Homo sapiens: one gene and its partners. The protein of the gene in region 1 purifies or fractionates together with the protein of each later gene. This does not show direct contact. Each region holds a gene or a part of one and is shown in the gene's direction. Other genes may lie near its edges.

Evidence for each region.
Region 2: the proteins of GOLGA6A (region 1) and STRN purify together in Homo sapiens (affinity purification with mass spectrometry; one large-scale study listed by BioGRID and IntAct). This does not show direct contact.
Region 3: the proteins of GOLGA6A (region 1) and MSANTD4 purify together in Homo sapiens (affinity purification with mass spectrometry; one large-scale study listed by BioGRID and IntAct). This does not show direct contact.

What each region holds. Positions count from the first base shown.
Region 1 is NC_000015.10:74,079,742-74,083,990, reverse strand, and holds the start of GOLGA6A (golgin subfamily A member 6A), read left to right. Parts: upstream 1-1,440; 5' UTR 1,441-1,481; coding exon 1,482-1,565; intron 1,566-3,255; coding exon 3,256-3,375; intron 3,376-4,249.
Region 2 is NC_000002.12:36,959,934-36,963,584, reverse strand, and holds part of STRN (striatin), read left to right. Parts: intron 1-3,651. UniProt on the Homo sapiens protein: Calmodulin-binding scaffolding protein which is the center of the striatin-interacting phosphatase and kinase (STRIPAK) complexes.
Region 3 is NC_000011.10:106,012,199-106,015,849, reverse strand, and holds part of MSANTD4 (myb/SANT-like DNA-binding domain-containing protein 4), read left to right. Parts: intron 1-1,808; exon of another isoform or gene 1,809-1,904; intron 1,905-3,651.

The sequences.
Region 1 (4,249 bases):
TTGAACACCTGGAGGGATGACTGCAGCACAGATTGCTGAGCCCTACTCCAGAGTTTCTGATTCACCATGTCCAGGGTGGGGCCTGAGAATTTGCACTTATAAAAGGTTCTCAGGTTCTGCTGCTGCTGCTAGTCCAGAGACTACATTTTTGAGAACCACTCTTGTCTACTAACTGTAAATTGTAGAACTCTAGAACAAAGCTTAGTTTGGTGTAGGAAAAGACGCTCACAGGTTATGGAGCAAATCATGAAAGATTCAACCCTTGATCCCAGCCTAGTGTGGAATTCAGGTAACAATCAATACACAGTGACATAACACAATTCTTGGTTTTCATGATTGCAAGTCATAGCCAAGTATCAAGTGAGAAATTCAGTTTCATTTGCAAGGCTTAGAGAGGCCAGGTGATTCTAGAAAAATAGGCCTTGTATTTGCTTTAAACCAGTAAAGAGCTTTGAGTGCTTATTAAATGGAAAGCTTTGTGTTTTTATTTATTTTTGACTATTTTATTTTATTTTTTTGAGATGGAGTCTCAGTCTGTCACCCAGGCTGGAGTGCAGTGGCGTGACCTTGGCTCACTGCAACTTCCGCCTCCCGGGTTCAAGTGATTCTCCTGCCTCAGCCTCCCCAGTAGCTGGGATTACGGGTACCCACCACCACACCTGGCTAGTTTTTGTATTTCGAGTAGAGACAGGGTTTCACCATGTTGGCCAGGCTGGTCTTGAACTCCTGACCTAAGGTGATCCACCCACCTAGGCCTCCCAAAGTGCTGGGATTACAGGTGTGAGCCACCACACCCGGCCCAAAAGCTTTGTGTTTTTAAAGATATTAGACATGTTTCTTGTTTTTTAAAAAATCTTAATAATGTAGGAGAATAAGAGAAATGTTTTTTCCAAAGCCGAGAAATCATTGTGATTATTTTACCTTATTGGGATGTTGGATAATATAGTCCACTTCATTCATTAATCATCAAACATGCTATGGATTTTCCATTTTTATAGGATTTGTGTCTTAACTGGGGTAATACTGGTAATTCTTATACTCCCTCTGAAGATGAAAAATGTAGGCCAAAATCATAGACCATGCATAGAAGCTGGATAATGAAGACAGCTCTGGAGGAACATGTAGACACACACACACTGACACACATATATATAAAGTATAAATACATATTTTTTTAAAGTTTATTTTTAACATTTTAAAGCAAAAACCAGCCCTCCCCTCTCCCGGAGTAGGCAGGCCCCGCCCCTCTCCCCAAGTGGGCAGGGACAGCAGTCGCATGGGCAGCTTTCCTTGTGATGTCACAGGTTCCTCTGGGCACACTGCTGCCTGGCCACGCCTCCTTTCCCTTTCATCTTTCTCATTGACCAATGGGATTGGAGCATTAAGGCCACACCCCTATTCTGCATTCTAGTGTGGCCCTGGTTACGCCTCCTCTGGCTCAGTCACACAGCAGCCTTGTAGGTGACTGGAGGTGTTCGCTGATGTGGCCCCAACCCTACCTCCCTCCCCACCCCATGATGTTAGAAGAATCTCGACAGAATAAATTGGCAGCAGCCAAGAAAAAGGTAAAAAGCCAAGAAAAAGGTCATGGCCCCCCAACCTAGCCAGAGATCCCCTCTGATGACAAGACCACTCCCAGAGTCCATACCACTCCTGAGGCACACCGGGCTGGGCCCCCCTACCCCGGCGCCTCTGGACTCCCCCCACCAACGTCTTGTCAGTCAGCCCCGCCCCTTCAGCAAGCAGCCCAGCCTCTGCCCTCGCCAATCACCCTGCGGTGACTTTGGGCGGATGACTACTGGGGATACCTGCTCCATATTCAGCCCTCACGTCCTGCCACCCCAAGCCCAACCTCCCTGGGTTCTTTGGGCTCACCTCTCCAAGGACCTGGGTCCCCCAGCCCCAACCCCCCAGCATCGCCAGTCATCCCGGGGTGACTTTGGGCTGGTGACTCCTGGGGTTCCCTGAGCAGACTCTGCTCTCCCCTCCTGCTGACCCAAGCCCGACCTCCCTGGGCTCTCTGGACTGGCATCTCCAAGGACCTGGGTCCCAGCCCCACGTCCCCCCTCCCCCATCGTGGATCGGCAACTCAGCCATTGCACTGATGAGGTTTCCCCCACCCCCAGGAGGAGTGGAATGTAGTGATGTCACAGTCCTCCTAGGAACTGTCATTACTGCTGCAAGACCGGCCTTTGATCTTATAACCCAGTCCCCTAAGCATTCTCACCCCATTTCTGGTTCCTCTGGTCACAGCACAAATTTCCAGCTAGAAGGGAAATGGGGACCATGGGACCTAGGAGCAAGAGGTTTCAGGCTGCCTTACTCCCTTCACATAGACATCGACAGTGTGAAAAGCCTACACTTCCCCTGTGAGCTCAAAACGTTGACAGTATCTCTGGGTGGTAATGGGAGAATGGGTTTGGTTTGGTTTTCTCCCAGGCTTCTACTCTCCAGAGAGACTTTAACATTTTTTTCCGAGTTCTCCACCTCATATTCTAATTCTCCACGGTTCTGGGACCAGACTGCCCTTCAGTCAGTGGTCTCTGAAGTGAGATTTGCTCATCTTCTGTGGAATAGGTCTTGGGAAACTGAACTTGACAGCTTGAATCTTCCTCATATCATCTCAACTTAGGGTACATTGAGTGCCACAGGATAAATGTGGGAGATCTTTCTGAAGCATCAGTTTCCCTTGATTCTCTTGAGAGAGAAAAAACATTAATGTACTTAGGGGTGACCCTCACATAGGTTTCTAAGAGTATACCAGACTTCTCTCTGAAATGAGACTTGGGTTGTCCTCTTTCTGATAAATTCCCAGATTTAACAAAAAAGCTGCCTTCTGCCATGAGGACACATTGATATAAAAGTTTGAGAGATACTGGTGCACTTCTTCACACTAACAGGCATTTGAGGATGTATGACTCTAAACCACACAGCGTGTAGTTCATGCCTATGTAATGTTTACTTTTCTACCTCTGCGTCTGGTTTTGGTCCCCGGCAGCTGCTGATTCATGGCAAAACCCCAGAGCTTGGAGTCAGAAGACTGAGTTTAAGTTCCATTATTGCCCCCCCACACTTTTTTTTTTAGCCATAATATCCATCCCTCTCAGTCACTTAAGTGATTGTGACAACACCTTGTACAGTTGTTGGTGGCATTAAATCAGATGGTGTATAAGAGTATTTTGCAAAAACTGTAAGGAGGGTGTGGCTGTAAGGGCTGGTAGTTCTCATGAGTATTACTGCTCTTCTTTCCCACAGCTAAAAGAATATCAGCAAAGGAAGAGCCCTGGTATTCCAGCAGGAGCAAAGACAAAAAAGAAAAAAACTGACAGTAGCCCTGAGACAACCACTTCCGGTGGTTGCCACTCACCTGGGGATGTGAGTCTTGGCTGGCCAGGCTCCTGGGGACAGGGGGCCCAAGGGGCAGTAGAGGGTAATTGTTGAGATTGCTGGGTACTGGTTAAGAATTCTGGGTTTGAATCCTGCTTCTTCATCTGCTAGCGATCTGATTTATGGCAAGTTGCTTGAGCTCTTTGGGCCTCTCTTTTCACATCTGTAAAATAGGGGTAGTATTGTTTGACTTCCATTTGTGAAGTTTAAATGAGATTCCTTATTGTTGTTGTTTTCATGTTAACCCCCAGTACGTGGCCTGCTGTAAACACCCAGGATACCCAGGAAATGGTCATTGCTGTTTGATTTTCCTGATCCCCACTCGCAAGGGGAAGCTGGGCTAATGAGTACAGCCACTTGCCATCAGGCTGTCCCTCTAGGAGTCACTGAAGGGGGCCCAGGGTGTGGTGAGGAGAGCCCAAGGCACTAGGAGCAAGAGAAGGTCTAACTTGCCACCAGCTTGCTGGGTGACCACAGAAAAATCACTTCTTCTGCTGGGCCTCAGTTTCCTCCTCTGTAAGATGATACTGGATAAGATCAGTGTCTTTCAAACTTGTTTTTTAGCTGAAGTCCCCTTAGTTCAAGTGAACTCTTACTCAGGAGTCTGTTTTTTTTTAATGGAGGTGGAGGTCTGGAGCTCTACCAGATTCATCGCCCATGTCCTGGGCCTGAGGAGAGGGGTCCAGTGAGCGTATTAAGATCTGCATTGGTCAGCTGACTCCACTCTGTGACTGCGTCACTCGGGGGACTTTTCCATCTATTTTTTCCTGCCCCTGGCAAGGCAGCAGGTGGCCATTTGGAAGAATGGCACAGGCCATGGTTTTAATCTCCTCTGCTCTTCTTCAGCGTTTCCTTTTCCTGA
Region 2 (3,651 bases), on another chromosome or scaffold:
GGATGAATATGATATATTTTGGGGGGAAGAGTTTGCAGTAATCTCTGGTCTTTGTCCCCCCTTATTAGTGTAATTGGAAAAAAAATTATTACCATCGTTACATTTGAATCTTCTTTATTTTTCTTTTGCTACTGGAATTTTCTTAGAAACACAATAGGAAGTAAAATAGTTGAATGCGTTGTGATGAAATACGGCTCAGTTGGTGTCCTCCTTTTAATTTTTAAATCTCTTCCTAAGCCATTAACACCAGAGTCAACACAAATACCTTTAAGATGAAGTCAAATTTGCCTCTTCAAGAACCTGTCAGTCCTGCTCTTTCAGGTTGCCAGGGAAGACTTGTGAAAGGCAATCCAAGCTCTCATCTGCCTGGCCTGCCTTTACTGCTTCCTCCCTCCTTCAGATCTTGGGAGTAAGGAAAGGGCCACGTTATAGCAAAAACCTATTTATTTGTCACTTATTTCACTCTTGCTCATCTTATTTGATAAATTCTCTTTTTATTTTTGGTAATGCTCCCCTCCTCACATCCAGTTGAGATTAGGCAGTAGTTCATGGGGGGAAAAAAAGAATGATTAAGATTATTAGTGAGCTTTACATTTGTGAAAGGAATTGGAGAAGGAATACTAATAATATTTGAGAAAAATTTCTGTATGTGAGGCATTGTGCTAGATGACCTCAAAGAAACATGCAGTCTAGTTATTAGTACGATATAACTTGTAGAAGAATCAGAGTGTTTATCATTTGGGGAGAAGGCTAATTTCTTTAGAATAGTGAAGGAGAGGCCGGGCGCGGTGGCTCACACCTGTAATCCCCAGCACTTTGGGAGGCCAAGGCAGGCGGATCGTGAGGTCAAGATATCGAGACCGTCCTGGCCAACATGGTGAAACCTTGTCTCTGCTAAAAATACAAAAATTAGCTGAGCATGGTGGTGTGTGCTGGAGGCTGAGGCAGGAGAATCGCTTGAACCTGGGAGGCGGAGGTTGCAGTGAGCTGAGATCGTGCCACTGCACTCCAGCCTGGCGACAGAATGAGACTCCATCTTAAGAAAAAAAAAAAGAATAGTGAAGGAGAGAAGAGCCAGCAGTGAATGGGGAGAATAGCAGGAGTAAAGAACTTTATGAGTTCATGAGAACCTAAGGCTCAGTATTTGAAAATTACTGACTTATGAGAAAGCAGGCATGTAAATAAAAAATAAAAAATGTTGGCCCTAGATTTTGATATGTGTGTGGTGTGTGGTGTAGGAGAGGCCCTGATATTTACCTGTAAGTGTTAGAGTTGTATGAAAAAGGTGGCAAGATTGAGTAGCTTAGGGCATGTGGTGTGGAGGCTGTATGCTAGAGTTTTGGCATTAATAACTTGTATTTTCTGGGTTTTGGCATTAATAATTTGTATTTTCACTCCCCAAATATTTTTCAAGCATCTACTTCATGCCAGACCTTGTTCTAGATACCGGAGATACAACAGCAAAAATACAGATCTTGCCCTTATGAAGCTTAAATTGTTGAGGCAGGCAGACAGTGATAAATAAATACATAGAATGTTGGGAAAGAAAATAAGAGGATTTGAGAGGGTGGAATGGGGAAGAAAGGATTCACTGATAAGATGCCATTCGAGCTAAGACCTGAAAAGGTGATCTCTAAGGTGAGGAAAGAGCTTTCTACACAGAAGGAACAGCTGGGGGAAGGGAGCACGCTTGGAATATTTAAGGAATATCAAGGAGGGAAAAGTGGCTAGAGTAGAGGAAGAGAATGGAAGAAGTCATGTCAAACAGGTACTAATGGAAGAAGTCATGTCAGACAGGGTCTTGCCCATTGTAAGGACTTTGGCCTTATACCTCAGCAAGCTGAGCAGCCGTCGGAATGTTTTAAGCAAAAGAGTGACACCATCTTTAAAAGGGACCCCTTGTAAGGATTCAGAACAGACTTGGAGGGAAAACAAGTAGAAGCAGCAGGGGGACTAGTTAGGAGGCTACTTTAATAAATCCAGGCAGAAGATGAACTAAGGTGGTAGTGATAAGATATGTGAATATGTATTTGATACGTATTCAAAATACAGGATTCTGAATACATTTTTAAAGGTAGAGCCAACAAGATGTGCTAAAGGATAGAATGTGGGGTTTGAGAAAAAGGGGAGTCAAAGATGACTTAACAGTTTTTAGAGGGCCAGGTGCAGTGGCTCAAAACCTGTAATCCTGTAATCCCAGTACTTTTGGGATTGAGGCTGAGGCAGGAGGATCACTTGAGTCTAGGAGTTCAAGACTAGCCTGGGCAACATGGCAAAACCCCATCTCCAGAAAAAAAAATTTTTTTAATTAGCCGGGTTAGTCCCAGCTACTTGGGAGGCTGAGGTGGGAGGATTGCTTGGGCCTGGGAGGTTGAAGCTGCAGTGAGTCATGATCACTCCACTGCACTCCAGCCTGGGCGACAGAAGGAGACCCTGTCTCAGAAAAAAAAAAAAAAAAAAAAAAAAAAAGTGCAGCCTGGGCAACATGGTGAAGCCCCATCTCTACAAAAAATTCACAAAGTTAGCTGGGTGCGTTGGCATGCGTCTGTGGTCCCAGCTACTCGTGAGGCTGAGATGGGAGGATTGCTTGAGCCCTGGAGATCAAGGCTGCACTGCGTTATGATCATGCCCCTGCACTCTAGCCTGGGTGCCAGAGTGAGGCCCTGTCTCAGAACAAATCAATCAAACAAACAAACAAACAAAAATACATGGATATAGAGAGAATGAGCAGCCTCATAGGACAGCTGAGAAGATTTACTGAGCTTTTTAATGGAAAACATAAATACTTAAAATGAGTTTGTCTTTATTATTGTGACTATTATTTATAATTATCACAAAAGGCAATATGGCAGAGACCTGGGTTTAAAATTCTTGCTTTAAAACTTACTATTGTATTTTACGCCTAAAATACATATTTGCCGTAATTCTGATCTCTCAGAGCCTTAGTTTTCTCATGTGTAAGTTAAGGATAATAAATTACCTTGTGAGAATTAAATTAAGATAATTTAAAGTACTTAGCAGAGGCATGGTACATAAGATAAAGTAAGTGCTTAATAAATGGTTGCAGATGCATGATGCTAAACTTTTGCTCTCGGTTATCTCCTCATCCCCAGAGAAAAGCATAATCTTCAGTCATGAACTTTTCTGAGGCTGGAGCATACAAGTGCCATCCTGAGGCCATGCAGTGTAATATTCTGGGTCTGACCCAGGCACTAAGAGATATTTAATGGGAGTGAATGGTTGCCTTCAGTGTCAGCCTCAGAACATTGAGGATATACTTCAAGTGTATTTGCTTTCCTTTTAATAACCCAGTAGGTATCTGTTACCTTGAAATTCATATAAACTTTTCTGAATGTGTTTATCTTAACTTTGCATTACATCATGGGTAACAAATTGTGTAAATTTACTAACCACATTATGAAATGAATCCTACATTTTATTTGGCTCTTTAAGCCACTTCCTTTACATGTGGAGCAGGTGAACTCCATTGTCATATGGTATAATTTTGTCAGCAGGTTCATTTTTCATTCTACTCATATTCTTGATAATTTCATAATCTTTATATTTTAGAAAGGTTATAGAGGCTTTAATCTTTTAAAACGTATCCTATTATTTGTCTCTTCAGTTCAGTGTTTCTCAACCTTAGCTATA
Region 3 (3,651 bases), on another chromosome or scaffold:
GTGTTCACTAAACTGCCTTGGAATCAGATGTTAAAACATTTCATTTTCTTTTATTTATTAGATAATATTTGATTTACACAAAAATAATATAGCTGGAGTGTTCTAATAAAGCAGCTCTCTGCCCACTCAAAAAAAAAAAAAAGTTCTAATTTGACAATTCTGTAGTATTAGTAAGTGCCGTCTTGGCCAATTTTTAGCTCCTAACATGACATGGCTGAATGTGGAGTTGCAAAGAGATGTCCGCAATTGATTCTTGAGAGCTCTCATGGGCAGGTTCCACCACACTCCTAATGTAAGTATATATGTTATGAAGCATAATAATAAAGACCCATGGGACCTATCCCTCAACTTAGGAACTAAACAATTCCAATATTATTGTGACATTTTTGTTTCCTTTTGTCAAAGTTATTTAAATGTTTTGCCTTTGATGTGGCAAATACATAATAGTGCTTAATGTGCACCAGGAACTGTTCTCTTTGTTTGACTAAGTCCTTTAATCCTTATAGGATTTCTATGAAGTAATGTTATTATCATTTTACAAATAAAATTACGCATAGGGAAGTTAAGTAACTGAGGCCACACAGCTAGGAATTGCCAGAGCCAGGACTCTAACCCGGGTGGTCTGACTCCAGAATCTGTGCTCATAACTACTACACACACTACCTCTTTTGATGTTTCTATTTATAGATAAACTTTGCTTATATTATTTGCTTATATTCTAGAGGATAAAGGTTTACATTTGACTGTAAGAGGAGTATATCTCTAGGGCAGTATCAAGAGTGCTATTGTTGGTTATACATTCCAATTTTGTGGATTTCAATTTTATTATTAAATTTCTCTTGAGAAATTTTCAAAGTCTATAAGTCTACTTTAGAAATAGTTGGCTTGCAGTCTTCTTTTCTTTTGTTTTTGCATACGTTGCCCTTTTTTGTGGGTATGTGAAATTGACAGTGATTTCTTGAGAGTTCATTTCAGCTGTTTTGAATTTTTAGTTTTCTGACCTCTATTTCAGCAGCAAGTGGCAGTTCAGGAGATGGTTATTCCACATGAGTGATTGGAAACAAAGATGTGGTGATGGGCATATATTTGTTGATGTTATTAGACACGTACAAAGTCAGCTGAAGAAAGAATACCAAGAGCTTGAAAAGGAAAAATGCATAAAGGTTTAATGCAATGGTGATAAGAAATGCTTTGTTATTAAGTTTAAAAATAAGGTATTAGCATCCACTTTTCAGTCTAAAAGAGAAAAGATGATAGAAAAGATGTGCATTTTCTTATTCAATTTAGCCTTGCTTAATTGCTATATTTTTGCTTCAGTAGAAGATACTATTTGTATTGTGAATTAGAGTAGAACTATTTTTCACACTAATGAAAAGTTTAAATTGGCAGACAGAGTAAGAGAAAAGAAACCATGTGTTAAAAGGTAAACTGAGACATGATAACTTTTAACAAGTTTATTTGAGCAAACAGTGATTCTTGAATCAGGCAGCTCCAAACCAGAAGTGGTTTGGGGGCTCTGCAGTGGAAACACAAAGCGGGGAGGCTTTATAGGTCTAACAGAAGTAAAACAAAGTAAATATTTGATTGGTTACAGTTATAAGATTGTCTAATTTGACCTATCCTGCTGGAAGGTTACATAAGTTAGTTGCATAAGTTAGCTGACAGCTTCTGATTGCTTAGTCTTAAGTTTCTTTTTTAAAAAATATCGATATTTACCAAAAAAATAGCCCAAGTTAAGTGTTGCATATGTTTGCAAATGAAGCAAGGTTAAAGTCTCTTATGAGGCCTAACTGGTTTTGTCTGCTTAGGGATTCTTCAGGCCAGGTCTCCGGTCTAATTTACTTTAACAGGAGGTAGAGGAAATGTAACCGATTGAAAGAATTTTATCTGGACCTTCCACATAGGTAAGAGTCTCCTTTTGAAAATCTTTTACTAAATGACATCTCAAAACTTACCTTAGCAACACTTTTTTGTTGTTGTTGTTGTTTGAGACAAAGTCTCACTGTTTCCCCCAGGTTGGGGTGCAGTGGCACAATCTCGGCTCACTGCAACCTCCACCTACTGGGTTCAAGCGATTCTCATGCCTCAGCCTCCTGAGTAGCTGGGATTATAGGTGTGCACCACCATGCCCAGCTAATTTTTTGTATTTTTAGTAGATACGGGGTTTTGCCATGCTGCCCAGGCTGGTCTTGAACTTCTGAGCTCAGGCAATCCGCCCGCCTCAGCCTCCCAAAGTGCTAGGATTACAGGCATGAGCCACCGCGCCTGGGCAACAACACATTTTTAAGGTTTAGCTATCACAAGCTGCTAATAAAGTCAAAGTACATGTGACGTGAGGGAACCTGGTGGTAGTAAGTCTTGCCATTTAACTAGCTGTGTTGTGGGCAAATTAACCTCTCTGGATCTTGTTTTATAAATAGAAAGGCTGGTATCTCCCATTTAATGTTATGATGGGGTTTAAATGACAGGATTTGGAACTTCATGGATAGTTTGATACTTTTTTTCATATTGACAGGAAAAGTTTAAGGTCAAACAGTGATAGAGCTGGAAGGGATCTTAGTAATGTCATCCCATTTCACATTTTGTAGGGGAGGAAAAGTCAGCTCTGTAGCAGTTATCAGTGAGTGAATTTGAAGTCAGACAGCATGGTCTGTGTAAGGTACCCCTTACTCTTTCTGAGCCCTGTTTCCCCTTACATCTTTTAAAATCTCTTTTCCAAGTCAAAGTGCTTTTTTGACATCTATCCCTCAGTTGAATCATTATTATTCTCCTCAGTTGAATCAATATTAATAAAGCAATATGTACTATACTGTGTGAGACACTGGGACCTTTTTGGTAGATGACCTCATTTTCTGCCGCTATGAGACAATCGAGTCCCTGACTCACTCACCATCTGTTCCAGCCTCCTAGTATGCCTTCTGATAATGCAAAGGCTAGCTAGCACAAAAACTACACTTCCCCAATCCATTGCAGTGAGGATTGTGGATGTGCTTTAGATTCCACCAGATGCACTTATGTAAGGCTTGAATTCAAGGTAGATAAGAGAGTGAGGCATGTGAATCATCTGTTCTACTAGTGTGGGTCTAGCACAGACGTTTTACTGTGCATTAGAGTTATCTGGAGGGTTTATTGAAACACAGATTGCTAGGTCCCACTTCGAGAGTTCCCAGTCTGGAGAGGAGCCTAAAAAGTTTACATTTCTGACAAGTTTCAGGTACACCCTCTTTGACAGTCTGACAACCTGAGATTCTGGAAATTGGAGAAACATTGTCTCGTATCTAAAAGAAATGCTTACAAGAGAGGATCTTTTCCACTCAAAATCTGTATACAAATATTGCCACATGGATATTTTAAAATTTATTTAATGGAGACTCCAAGTATACGTACTTTCCTATTGTGCTCTTCAACTCTACAATTAAAGTGGCCCAGAAAAATACAAAGTACTGCTGAGAAATTCTCCAAAGAAAGGCACATAATTAAGAGCCTTAATTAGAAACAAAAATATAGTCCAGCCTGGTTTTGTTTGATGTTAGGGGCTTTTGTTTGGTGGTTTAAGGGAGGGGAGGATGGGGTGAGCTTTGAGGAACAGAATTACAAGGGCAAACCATGCAATGTGCACTAGTCTTTGAAAGGTTTAGGAATCTAAAAAAT